Linked DNA regions of Homo sapiens. The protein of the gene in region 2 interacts with the protein of the main gene of each other region in a pairwise test. Each region holds a gene or a part of one and is shown on either strand. Other genes may lie near its edges. The genes, in order: SEC22A, TMEM52B and ZDHHC15.

Evidence for each region.
Region 1: the proteins of TMEM52B (region 2) and SEC22A interact in binary tests that used the Homo sapiens proteins (3 or more experiments, as listed by UniProt).
Region 3: the proteins of TMEM52B (region 2) and ZDHHC15 interact in binary tests that used the Homo sapiens proteins (3 or more experiments, as listed by UniProt).

The regions. Positions count from the first base shown.
Region 1 is NC_000003.12:123,204,888-123,208,642, reverse strand, and holds part of SEC22A (vesicle-trafficking protein SEC22a), read right to left. Parts: intron 2,343-3,755; exon of another isoform or gene 1,536-2,342; intron 1-1,535. UniProt on the Homo sapiens protein: May be involved in vesicle transport between the ER and the Golgi complex.
Region 2 is NC_000012.12:10,176,970-10,180,724, reverse strand, and holds the start of TMEM52B (transmembrane protein 52B isoform 2 precursor), read right to left. Parts: upstream 1,694-3,755; 5' UTR 1,151-1,693; coding exon 1,097-1,150; intron 1-1,096.
Region 3 is NC_000023.11:75,516,350-75,520,104, forward strand, and holds part of ZDHHC15 (palmitoyltransferase ZDHHC15), read right to left. Parts: intron 1-3,755. UniProt on the Homo sapiens protein: Palmitoyltransferase that catalyzes the addition of palmitate onto various protein substrates.

The DNA.
Region 1 (3,755 bases), on a different chromosome or scaffold from region 2:
GGTTCAAGCAATTCTCATGCCTCAGCCTGGGTTCCCATGCCACAGCATAGGATGTGGCTGGGACTATAGGCGCCTGCCACAGTGCTGGGATTACAGGCATGAGCCACCACACCCAGCCACATTAGCTTTTTAAAAAATAATACTTCTGTCTGGCATTCTCATAAGTACAGATGGAAGTAAAAACTGGTACAAACAGTTCTCAAAATGATTTGGCAATTTCAACAAGAGTCTGAAGGCATACCTTTTAACCTCAATAAATTTAAATATATACCTGTCTTGAGAAAAATAATCAGAAATCCAGGCAAAATTTTAAACAGAAAGACATTCTTCCACTCAAATAACTGAAAGCAATCTAAATATCCTATAAAATGGTGATGGTTAAGTAAATTATAGTATATTCATATAACAGAATATAATGCAGCAACTAAAAGTTATGTTTGTGGAGAAAGTTTAATAATGTGGTAAAATGCTTACATGTTAAGGAGAAAAAAGTAGGATAAAAATTGCAAATGTTGTTTTACACAAACATAAGGATAAAGAGACGAAGATAAAGAGAAGGAAAAAGGGATTGAAAAACGGATGCAGAAAAAGATGCCAAATTAAGAATATGCTCACCTCTAAGAAATGGTATTATTGGTTATTATTATTTTATAATTTCCTAAATGTTCTCAATATTCACAGTAGACATATACTACTTTTATAATCAGAAAAAAATTATTTAAAATAAATCCTAAAGCTAAAGGAATATTGGTTTTAATGTTGTTCTCAATCTTTTTACCAGAAAGTAAATCTTAATGGCCTATTTTATTGGATTCTCTTCTTGCTTTACAAAAACAGATGAAAGGACTTCACAGGCCTGAGTCTGAAGGAACTCAGGTCAACAGTCACTCAACCTTTCATAAAATACACAGTGGCTCTCAAACTTTAGCTTGCATAAGAAGTTGAAAGTTTAGTTAAAAATGCAGATTTCTGAGCTCTGCCCTCAAAATTCTGAACCACTGACTGTGGGATAGGGCTTGACAATTTGCTTATTGTCTAAGGCCCATACTTTTTAAAACATTAAATTAAAACATGTTCACTATCTAAGATTAAGTGATAACTCTTCTCTGTCAGGCCATCAAAGCACAATGTCACTAAAGGCTTCCTCACTAGTGGTGAGGCAACTGGTGAAAATTCAAAAATCTGATAAAAATCTCACAGGCATTTTTCCAAAAATATTGTATCTTAGAGACTAAATTAATCCTTACCTGCCCACTTAATCTAGGTCAATATTATCTCATTCCAAAAAGGAAAAAATGAGTAATATATATAAAAAAAAATACCACAGAAAACCAGTTGTTACAAAGCTTGTAAATCAGGAGCTGATAGTTTTCACTGCTGTGTGAAGTCAAAATATGACTTCCCATTCATGGTGATAACTGATCTGACAATAAAAATTAACCCAACTAATAAATCTAATGCATTAAGTTCACTATCCCTTTTTCCTCTTTTCATGAGGAAAAAGGAGAAATCTCTAGGTGTTACTGTGTCATTACCCTTTAATATTTTTCTCCTTCAGAGACAGGGTCTCACTGTGTCACCCAGACGAGTGTAGTGGTGCGATCTCAGTTCACTGCAACCTCCACCTCCCAGATTCAAGCAATTCTCATGCCTCAGCCTCGCGAGTAGCTAGGATTACAGGCATGCGCCACAACACCCAGCTCATTTTTGTATTTTCAGTAGAGATGAGGTTTCGCCATGTTGGCCAGGCTGGTCTCAAACTCCTGGCCTGAAGTGATCTGTCCACCTCAGCCTCCCAAAGTACTAGGATTACAGGCATGAGCTACCACGCCCAGCCTCTCCATTCATTTAAAGAGAAAAATATCCAGAAGCAAATTAGTCTTTTTACTACAGTGGAGTCTTCAAACTGAAGTCCCAGTGTGACATATCCCAATTGGTGTTTTTTTCCATTCATCTAGTTTTTTTCTCTCCTAAAAGCAGTAGCATGAAAAAGTTGGGATCCCTGAAGAGATATCTATACTATAAACCCCTCTTTAATTTTTTTTTTACCATGTTTTACTTAATTATTAAATCACAATTGTAACATTTAGCCTAAGTGTAAGAAAGTAGGAAAATGTCTTACTCTATCCCCTTAAGCGTTTATTATTTAACTATAAAACTGTTGTCTTTCCAGAAGTACACTGCAACACAATAACCATTCTGGGAATTAATTTGAGGGTGAGTTGTAACTTGCAGTTCTAAATACCCACATTTTAGTATTTAAAAGCAGATTGGATGGGGTGCCATGGCTTATACCCATAATCCCAACACTGCTTGAGGCCAGGAGTTCAAGACCAACCTAGAAACATGGTGAGGCTCTGTCTCTATAAAAAAAATTAAAAATCAGCTGGGCATGGTGGCACACGCCTATAGTACTTGCTTTGGGGAGGCTGAAGCAGGCCCAGGAGTTCAAGGCAATGGTGAGCTATGATTGTGCCACTGCAGTCCAACCTGGGTGATGAGAGAGATCCTGTCTCAAAAAGTAAAATAAAAGTAGACTGTATTATTTTATGTCTGGCCTCTCTAGGATCCTAATAGAAATATTATGAATAGACTTCATTAATAGGTTGCCAAATTTCATGTAGTCTTCAAAGTTATTCTTTAGTGACTTGGAGGACAGATCAATAAATATATGATCCATGCTTTCTAAAACACATACTGTAAAAAGAATACAATTTGTAAGTTCCATTCGTTTACCAAACATTTACTGAATATCTAATGTGTCCCATGAATTATGCCAGATAGCAGGAATGAAGAGTCCTACCATCAAGAAACATCACTCCTCAATTAGAGAAACTCAGTTGAAAAGAGCAAACAATGCAGGTGTGTTGCCCACCACTTCACTAACTGGAAAACTAAAGTTGGACAAACTTACATTTCAAATACTCCTTTTTTTGTTGTTTTTTTGTTTTGTTTTGTTTTGTTTTGAAACAGGGTCTCACTCTGTTGCCCAGGCTGGAGTGCAATGGCTCACTGCAACCTCTGCCTCCCAGGTTCAAGCGATTCCCCTGCCTCATCCTGCCAAGTAGCTGGGATTACAGGTGCCCGCCACCATGCCTGGCTAATTTTTGTATTTTTAGTAGAGATGGGGCTTAACTGTGTTGGCCAGGCTGGTCTCAAATTCTGACCTCAAGTGATCCACCTGCGTCGGCCTCACAAAGTGCTGGGATTACAGGTGTGAGCCACTGCGCCCAGCCTCAAATTTTCCTAATATGTACTTTAGCCTTTAACCAAAAGCAGAACACAGTAGTTACATTCCCTGTCAAAATTATTACAAGGTTGTCAGAGAATGGTTTCTACTTATCCATAGATAAGATTTTTCTTAGGGAAAAAATTAAACCTCTTTCTACCACAGTAATTTGATTCAGCATCCAAAGCACTTGAATTTAAGCCTGACAAACGGGGATGAATGTCCAATGATCAACGTCAGGCTTAACTAATTTGTAGACAGATTCCAACCACCTTAGGCTAAGCTGTCTCTCCATCAATTCAATAAACATACCCCTACTTTTTTTCTTTTTACCACGGATTCATAATATAGTTTGTTTTTTTTTAAACTAATCTTATCTGGACTGTGCTAGCAGAAAAGGAAATCTGTCCATGTCAGGCCTAAGCTAGGTTAAAGTATCTTTAAGGTCTTAAGGAGGGTTGTGGTTGGGAAAATCCCAAGGAAGAACCAGTGGAACTGTGGAAAGCAAGAGATTACAACAATTGCA
Region 2 (3,755 bases):
AGCAACCACAAAGGCCCTAGAAAAGAAACAGATTTGTAACTATTGGGAGTTTATGGCGGGTAGTGAAGGGGTAAGGAGACACACATTCTCAAGACCTATCAGTTGGAAAGGATCTGTAAAAGGATTAATGGCCAGCCTTTGCAGGTAACATTTGAGAAACCCGTGTTTGTGTTTTCATTGGAAAGAAATGGCCACTAACGATGAAAAAGCGTGTGTTTCCTCTACGCAACCATGGTACTTTCTTTCACTTTCTTCACTAAAGGTAAGAGAAGCCTAAAGTGCTCAGCAGAGAAAATGCTACTTTTCAGGCTTGTTGCAAAGAGAAAAGAAAGGAAAAATGAAGGGAAGACAAGGCAAAGGGAGTGAAGAGGAAGCAAAAAGAAAATATAAGAAAAAATGGATTTTCAGATACCACTTTAACTGTTCTATTAGCAAAAAAAAAAAAAAAACAAACCATACAGCCCACTCTGTACGGGGGCCATACGGGAATCTGAGACTATCCAGTTTTCTTCATTTGCTCTCCTTCTTGCTAGATGGCATAGCTCTATAAACTTCCCTGTGACAATTGTTTAGAATCCCTCAGTCCAGTGACCCTTTTCTCCACTAATGGATTACTCAGAGACTTCTGATTCATTGTGGGGCCCAAAATATTTTAAAAGAGCCCTGCCTCTCTTATTTCTAGACTAGAGGCACCTAAACTGCTAGAACAGGATTAGAAATTCCTGGATGGGAAATTCCGTTTAGGGGAATTACACACCTAGTTTTCATAATTTGTTTGGAATTTTGAGGGATGGGTGATAAGATGCTAAAAGAGATAAAATACTTCAGCGGCACTTCTAAAGTGCCACGGCAATCCTGCTCGTTTCCATGCTCACTCTAATTTCTGTCCCCCTTTTCATTGTCATTGCCATCAGTCACACATGCATCTATGCAATCTCGTAATACTAAGGAAACTTTGTAGTTTATTCATTTCCCTATGACCCCCTGGGTTCTGTATATGTCTCCCCACCCCGCAGTTCATTTCCTTTCAGACTCTTCTGAGAGTTGATTAATCTGGGGAAAAATACTCTTTCTGCCTTTTCACCACTGAACTCACCAGGATGAAATACAGCAGGGCTGAGGCCGCCACGACATGAACTCGGACTCCCATCGGGCTGAATTCCTGCTTCTTCAGAATCTTGCACTGGGCATCCGTTGCCTCCTTTCAATGCTCTGTGCCATATTTTACTTCTTGACCTAGAATTCTTAAGAAGAGAAACTTTTCTCAGGAATTTATCAGCTTTTCTCTCTCTCGTTCTCTCTGTCTCCTCCTACTCGCTCTGGCTGTTATTTTCTATGGCTTTTCCCTCTTCTTTCCTGTTTTTCTTCTTTATTCTTATTACTATTTCTATGGCCTCCACATTTACTTCCTTTTGCCTTCTTTCTTTCCGTTACACTATTAATTCTTTCTACATCTTGAAGTTTCTTTCTCCTACTGCTCCCAAAAAGGAGACATTCAAAGAGGACATATGTGTCCTCTGAATGAAGTATTTTTCTAGACAGCGATGAAAAACTTGGCTTTGAGGATGGTCAAAGGCAGATTGCTGGTGACCAAATATATTCCTTTCTTCATCAGAAAACTGGTAATATTCTTGATCCTTCACCAGAGTACTCCAGCGTGACTGTTGCAGGGTGAAAGTCACCCTGCTAATCTCCTTTCTTCTCTCTCCGTGTGACTAACAACCCCTTCTTGCTCTTTGAAACCCTCCCCTTCACTATGTTGATAATCAACTCTCCTGGTTCTGGGTCATTTATATCCCTAAGCATTGGGGTAAGACTGAGAGGTTGCCAAGTGAACAGGAAAGCCATCTCATCTTTGGAGAAAACAGACTTGAAGATGAGAAATCAAGTCGGAAGATTAGAATTTTCAGGTGTTATCAGTGACATCTTCCTCCTCCCTGACTTCACTTCCCATTGAAATAGATAACTGAGAAAGACATTTTTTTAAAACCAAATTTTAAAAAAGCAAATGTATAGGTTTCTTTCTTTCTTGCCTTTTCTTTGTTCCTTCTTTCTCTCTCTTTCTCTCTCTCTCTCTCTCTTTGGTTAAGGAGTGATGTGATTGAGAAATAAGTCTTGTCACTCAGGAAAATAAAACCTAAGGTTAGAGTAAAAACAAGCACACATGCAAAAGCATAGAATACTTTTTTTTTTTTTTTTTTTGAGACGGAGTCTTGCTCTGTCACCCAGGCTGGAGTGCAGTGGCGCAATCTCGGCTCACTGCAAACTCTGCCTCCTGGGTTCATGCCATTCTCCTGCCTCAGCCTCCCGAGTAGCTGGGAATACTGGCGCCCACCACCACGCCCGGCTAAGTTTTTTTGTATTTTTAGTAGAGACGAGACGGGGTTTCACCATGTTAACCAGAATGGTCTCGATCTCCTGACCTCATGATCCGCCCGACTCGGCCTCCCAAAGTGCTGGGATTACAGGCGTGAGCCACCGTGCCTGGCCTAGAATACTTACAATGAAACAAAGCTATAGACACAAATGTGGCCGGGTGCCATGGCTCATGCCTGTAATCCCAGCACTTTGGGAGGCCAAGGCGGGCTGATAACTTCGGCCAGGAGTTTGAGACCAGCCTGGAGAACATGATGAAACCCTTTCTCTACGAAACATACAAAAATTAGCTGTGTGTCATGGCAGGCACCTGTAATCCCAACTACTTGGGAGGCTGAAGCAGGAGGGCCACTTGAACCCGGAAGGCAGAAGTTGCAGTGAGCCGAGATCACACCACTGCACTCCAGCCTGGGTGATAGAGCGAGAATCTGCCTCAAAAAAGCAAAATATTAAAAGAAACAAAAGAATGCTGTATGAATGATTTATACTTAAGTAGGTGATCTTTTACTTAATACCAAATGTTTAATAAAAAAATTATTATTATTATTATTATTATTATTATTATTATTATTATTATTATTTGAGACAGAGTCTCTCTGTCACCAGGCTGGAGGGCAGTGGTGCAATCTCGGCTCACTGCAACCTCTGCCTCCTGGGTTCAAGCAATTCTCCTGCCTCAGCCTCCTGAGTAGCTGGGATTATAGACACCTGCCACGACACCCAGCTAACTTTTCTATTTTCAGTAGAGACAAGGTTTTACCATATTGGCCAGGCTGGGATAAGAAAAGTAGAAGTTAGTTTACAGTGATATATCTATCTCATAAGAATTGAATAAAACCTCCTTTCAGGACCTTTCTAGCTCAGTAAATCTAATTATGCTGAGTGATTGTGGAAGGGAGACTCTTGGGTGAGCTGATCATACTCTAAGGGTCCTCACACATAGCTTGATGATGGGATATGAGAATGCAGGATATAAACTGGTTTTGTTCTCAGCTAAGGAAAACAAATAATGAGAAAATGGCCTGGTACCATACTGGTGATTTAAAATCTGTCAGTTTCAAGACGAAATGAGCACTGACAGTCTTTTATTTTTTATTTTTTTAAATTAGGCAACTGGGGTTAGGATGAAGGGTGATTTCCAGATTTCAGTAGAAGACTTGGCAAGGTGGAAGGTATTTTATAGGACAAGGAGAGCAGGGCTTTAGGTGGCCTTCCACTAAATTATTATGTAATTCCTCCAGTCCTTAACGTTCCCATTCATACAACAGGAGCAGAATACCCACTTGACCTGCTTTAGATGTTATTTCCTAGAGAAAATAAAATAAGAGACAGGAAAGCATTTTGAATAGGATATTTCTATCATGAGTGCCCTGTACGTA
Region 3 (3,755 bases), on a different chromosome or scaffold from region 2:
AGTAACCAAAACAGTATAGTACTGGTACCAAAAAAGATATATAGACCAATGGAACAGAACAGAGCCCTCAGAAATAATACCACATATCTATAACCATCTGCTCTTTGTCAAACCTGACAAAAACAAGAAATGGGGAAAGGATTCCCTATTTAATAAATGGTGCTGGGAAAACTGGCTAGCCAGATGTAGAAAGCTGAAACTGGATCCCTTCCTTACACCTTATACAAAAATTAATTCAAGATGGATTAAAGACTTAAATGTTAGACCTAAAACCTTAAAAACCCTACAAGAAAACCCAGGCAATACGATTCAGGACATAGGCATGGGCAAGGACCTCATGACTAAAACACCAAAAGTAATGGCAAGAAAAGCCAAAATAGACAAATGGGATCTAATTAAACTAAAGAGCTTCTGCACAGCAAAAGAAACTACCATCAGAGTGAACAGGCAACCTACAGAATGGGAGAAAATTTTTACAATCTACACATCTGACAAAGGGCTAATATCCAGAATCTACAAAGAACTCAAACAAATTTACAAGAAAAAATCAAACAACTCCATCAAAAAGTGGGCAAAGGATATGAACAGACATTTCTCAAAAGAAGACATTTATGCAGCCAAAAGATACATGAAAAAATGCTCATCATCACTGGCCATCAGAGAAATGCAAATCAAAACCACAATGAGATACCATCTCACACCAGTTAGAATGGCGATCATTAAAAAGTCAGGAAACAACAGGTGCTGGAGAAGATGTGGAGAAATAGGAACACTTTTATACTGTTGGTGGGAGTGTAAACTAGTTCAACCATTGTGGCAGACAGTGTGGTGATTCCTCAAGGATCTAGAACTAGAAATACTAATTGACCCAGAGATCCCATTACTGGGAATATACCCAAAGGATTATAAATCATGTTACTATAAAGACACATGCACAAGTATGTTTATTGCGGCACTATTCACAATAGCAAAGACTTGGAACCAACCCAAATGCCCATCAATGATAGACTGGATTAAGAAAATGTGGCACATATACACCATGGAATACTATGCATCCATAAAAAAGGATGAGTTCATGTCCTTTGTAGGGACATGGATGAAGCTGGAAACCATCATTCTCAGCAAACTATCGCAAGGACAGAAAACCAAACACTGCATGTTCTCAGTCATAGGTGCGAATTGAACAATGAGAACACTTGGACACATGGTGGGGAACATCACACACGGGGGCCTGTCGTGGGGTGGGGGGAGGGGGGAGGGATAGCATTAGGAGAAATACCTAAGGTTAAATGAGGAGTTAATGGGTGCAGCACACCAACATGGCACATGTATACATATGTAACAAACCTGCATGTTGTGCACACGTACCCTAAAACTTAAAGTATAATAATAATAAAATTTTAAAAAAAAGCTGGACTCGTATCTTATGCCAGATATAAAAAATTAACTCAGAATGGCTAAAATACCTAAAGGTGAGAGCTAAAAGTATAAAATTATTATAAGAAAACACAGGGCACACGCCTGTAGCCCCAGCTATTTGAGAGGCTAAGGTGGGAGGATCACTTGAGCCCAGGAGTTTGAGATCAGCCTGGGCAACATAGTGAGGTCCCGTATCAAAAACAAAAACAAAAAAAAACAAAAAACAAACAAACAAACAAAAAACCAAAACCAACCAACCAACCAACCAAACAAAAAAATCCCACAGGGGTAAATCTTTATGCTCTTGCATTTGGTAATGGATTCTTAAATATGACACCAAAAGCATAGGCAACAAAAGAAAAAATAGATAAATTGAATTTTATTAAAATTAAAAATCTTTGTGTATAAAATGATACTATCAAGTATGGGGGAAAATGTTTGCAAATAACGTATCTGATAAAGATCAAGTATTCAGAACATGCAAAAAATATTAAAATTCAACAACAAAAAGACAACCCAATTTAAAAATCCCATTTAAAAAATGGACAATGGCTTGAATAGACATTTTCCCAAAGAAGATATATGGATGGCAAACAAGTACATAAAAAGATACTCAATATTTTTTTCATTATGGAAATACAAATCAAATCCATAATGAGATACCCCTTCACACCCAGTAAGATGGCTATAATAAAAATAAAACTGAAAATAACAAGTCTTGGTGAGAATGTGGACAAATTGGAACCCTTCTGTGCTGCTTGATGGGAATGTAAAATGGTGCAGTCACTGCGGAAGATAGTTTGGAGGTTCCTCAGAAAGTTAAACATAGAATTACCATACAGTCCAATTATCCCCATCCATCTCCCTGGTGTATATACTCAAAATAATTGAAGACAGATATTCAAACAAATACATGAATGTTTGTAACAGCACTATTCAGAAGAGACAAAAGGTAGAAATAGCCCAAATGGCCATTAATGGATGAATGGATAACAAACTGGTATATATATATATATATATATATATATATATATATATACACACACACACACACACACACACACACACACACACACACAATAGACTATTATTCAGCCATTAAAAGGGATAAATTACTGTTACATAATATAATGTGGACCAATTTCAAAAACATTTTGTTAATTGGAAGAAGTCAGACACAAAAGAACACATATTTTATGATTCTATTTATATGGAACATCCATAATAGGTAAATCCATAGAGACAGAATGCAGATTAATAATTGGCTAGGACTTGGGGGAAGAGGGAACAGGGAGTGACTGCTTAATGCTTATGAGGTTTCTTTATGGGATAACAAAAACATTTTGGAACTACATAGAGGTGATGGCTGCACAACATTGTGAGTGCTAAATGGCACTGAGGCGAACACTTAAAAATGGTTAATTTTATGTTATATAAATTTCACCCCAATAAAATGGATACTGTTACTTTCCCTCCTCTCTAAAAAGCTAAGCTTCTTATTTTCCTGGGTCAGGAAGAATCCTTTATTTCTTTACTAATCACAAGTTACTATCTAATGAGCTCTTATAATGTGTTGTGAACTGTGATGCATGCTTTTCAGGCATCATGTTATTTGAGCCTCACAGCAGTAATACCTGGCATATACTGAGTGCTAAGCAACCATTTGTCATATGGATGAACAACTGTAGAAGCAAGGTACATGTGAGACAACTGAGGTTGAGAGAGTGAAGTTACTTGCCCCAGGTCTCCAGGCTAGTAAATGGCAGAATTCAAACTCTAAGAATTAAAGGACAAAAACATCTCTTTTGGTTTCAGCTCTAATGTAACGTTAGGGAGAAAGACATCAGGTTTTATCCCTGGAAAGAAGTTAGGTCCTTAATGTTACTTTTTGAGACATATTGAAATGCAAATTTGTTAATTTATTTGTGTTGGAAAAGGTATGGCCTTGGTATCAGGCAGCCTGGATTTCCAACTCTTCACTATTACTAAATGTGTGGCCTTAGGAAAATTTGATTTAACCTTTCCAAAACCCAGGTTGCTAATTTGTTACAAGATTGTTAAACTGATGATGGCAGGAGGGACTGGTTCAGCCAGAGTTGAAAGTCAAAGCTGCCTTATTCTCCTGACTTTTAAATAATGGGAACTGATGCAAAATGTTAAGAAAACACTGTGCAGGCCAGGCAAAATATATCTGAAGGCTACATCTGGCTTGTATGTCACAAAGTTTTTACCTCTGCATTAGTTTAGAGGAGACTGTGGCAACATACTGCCTGGGTTTTAAGTTTGGCCATTTACTAGCTCTGTGACCTTAGGTAAGCTACTTATTCTGTCTGTTC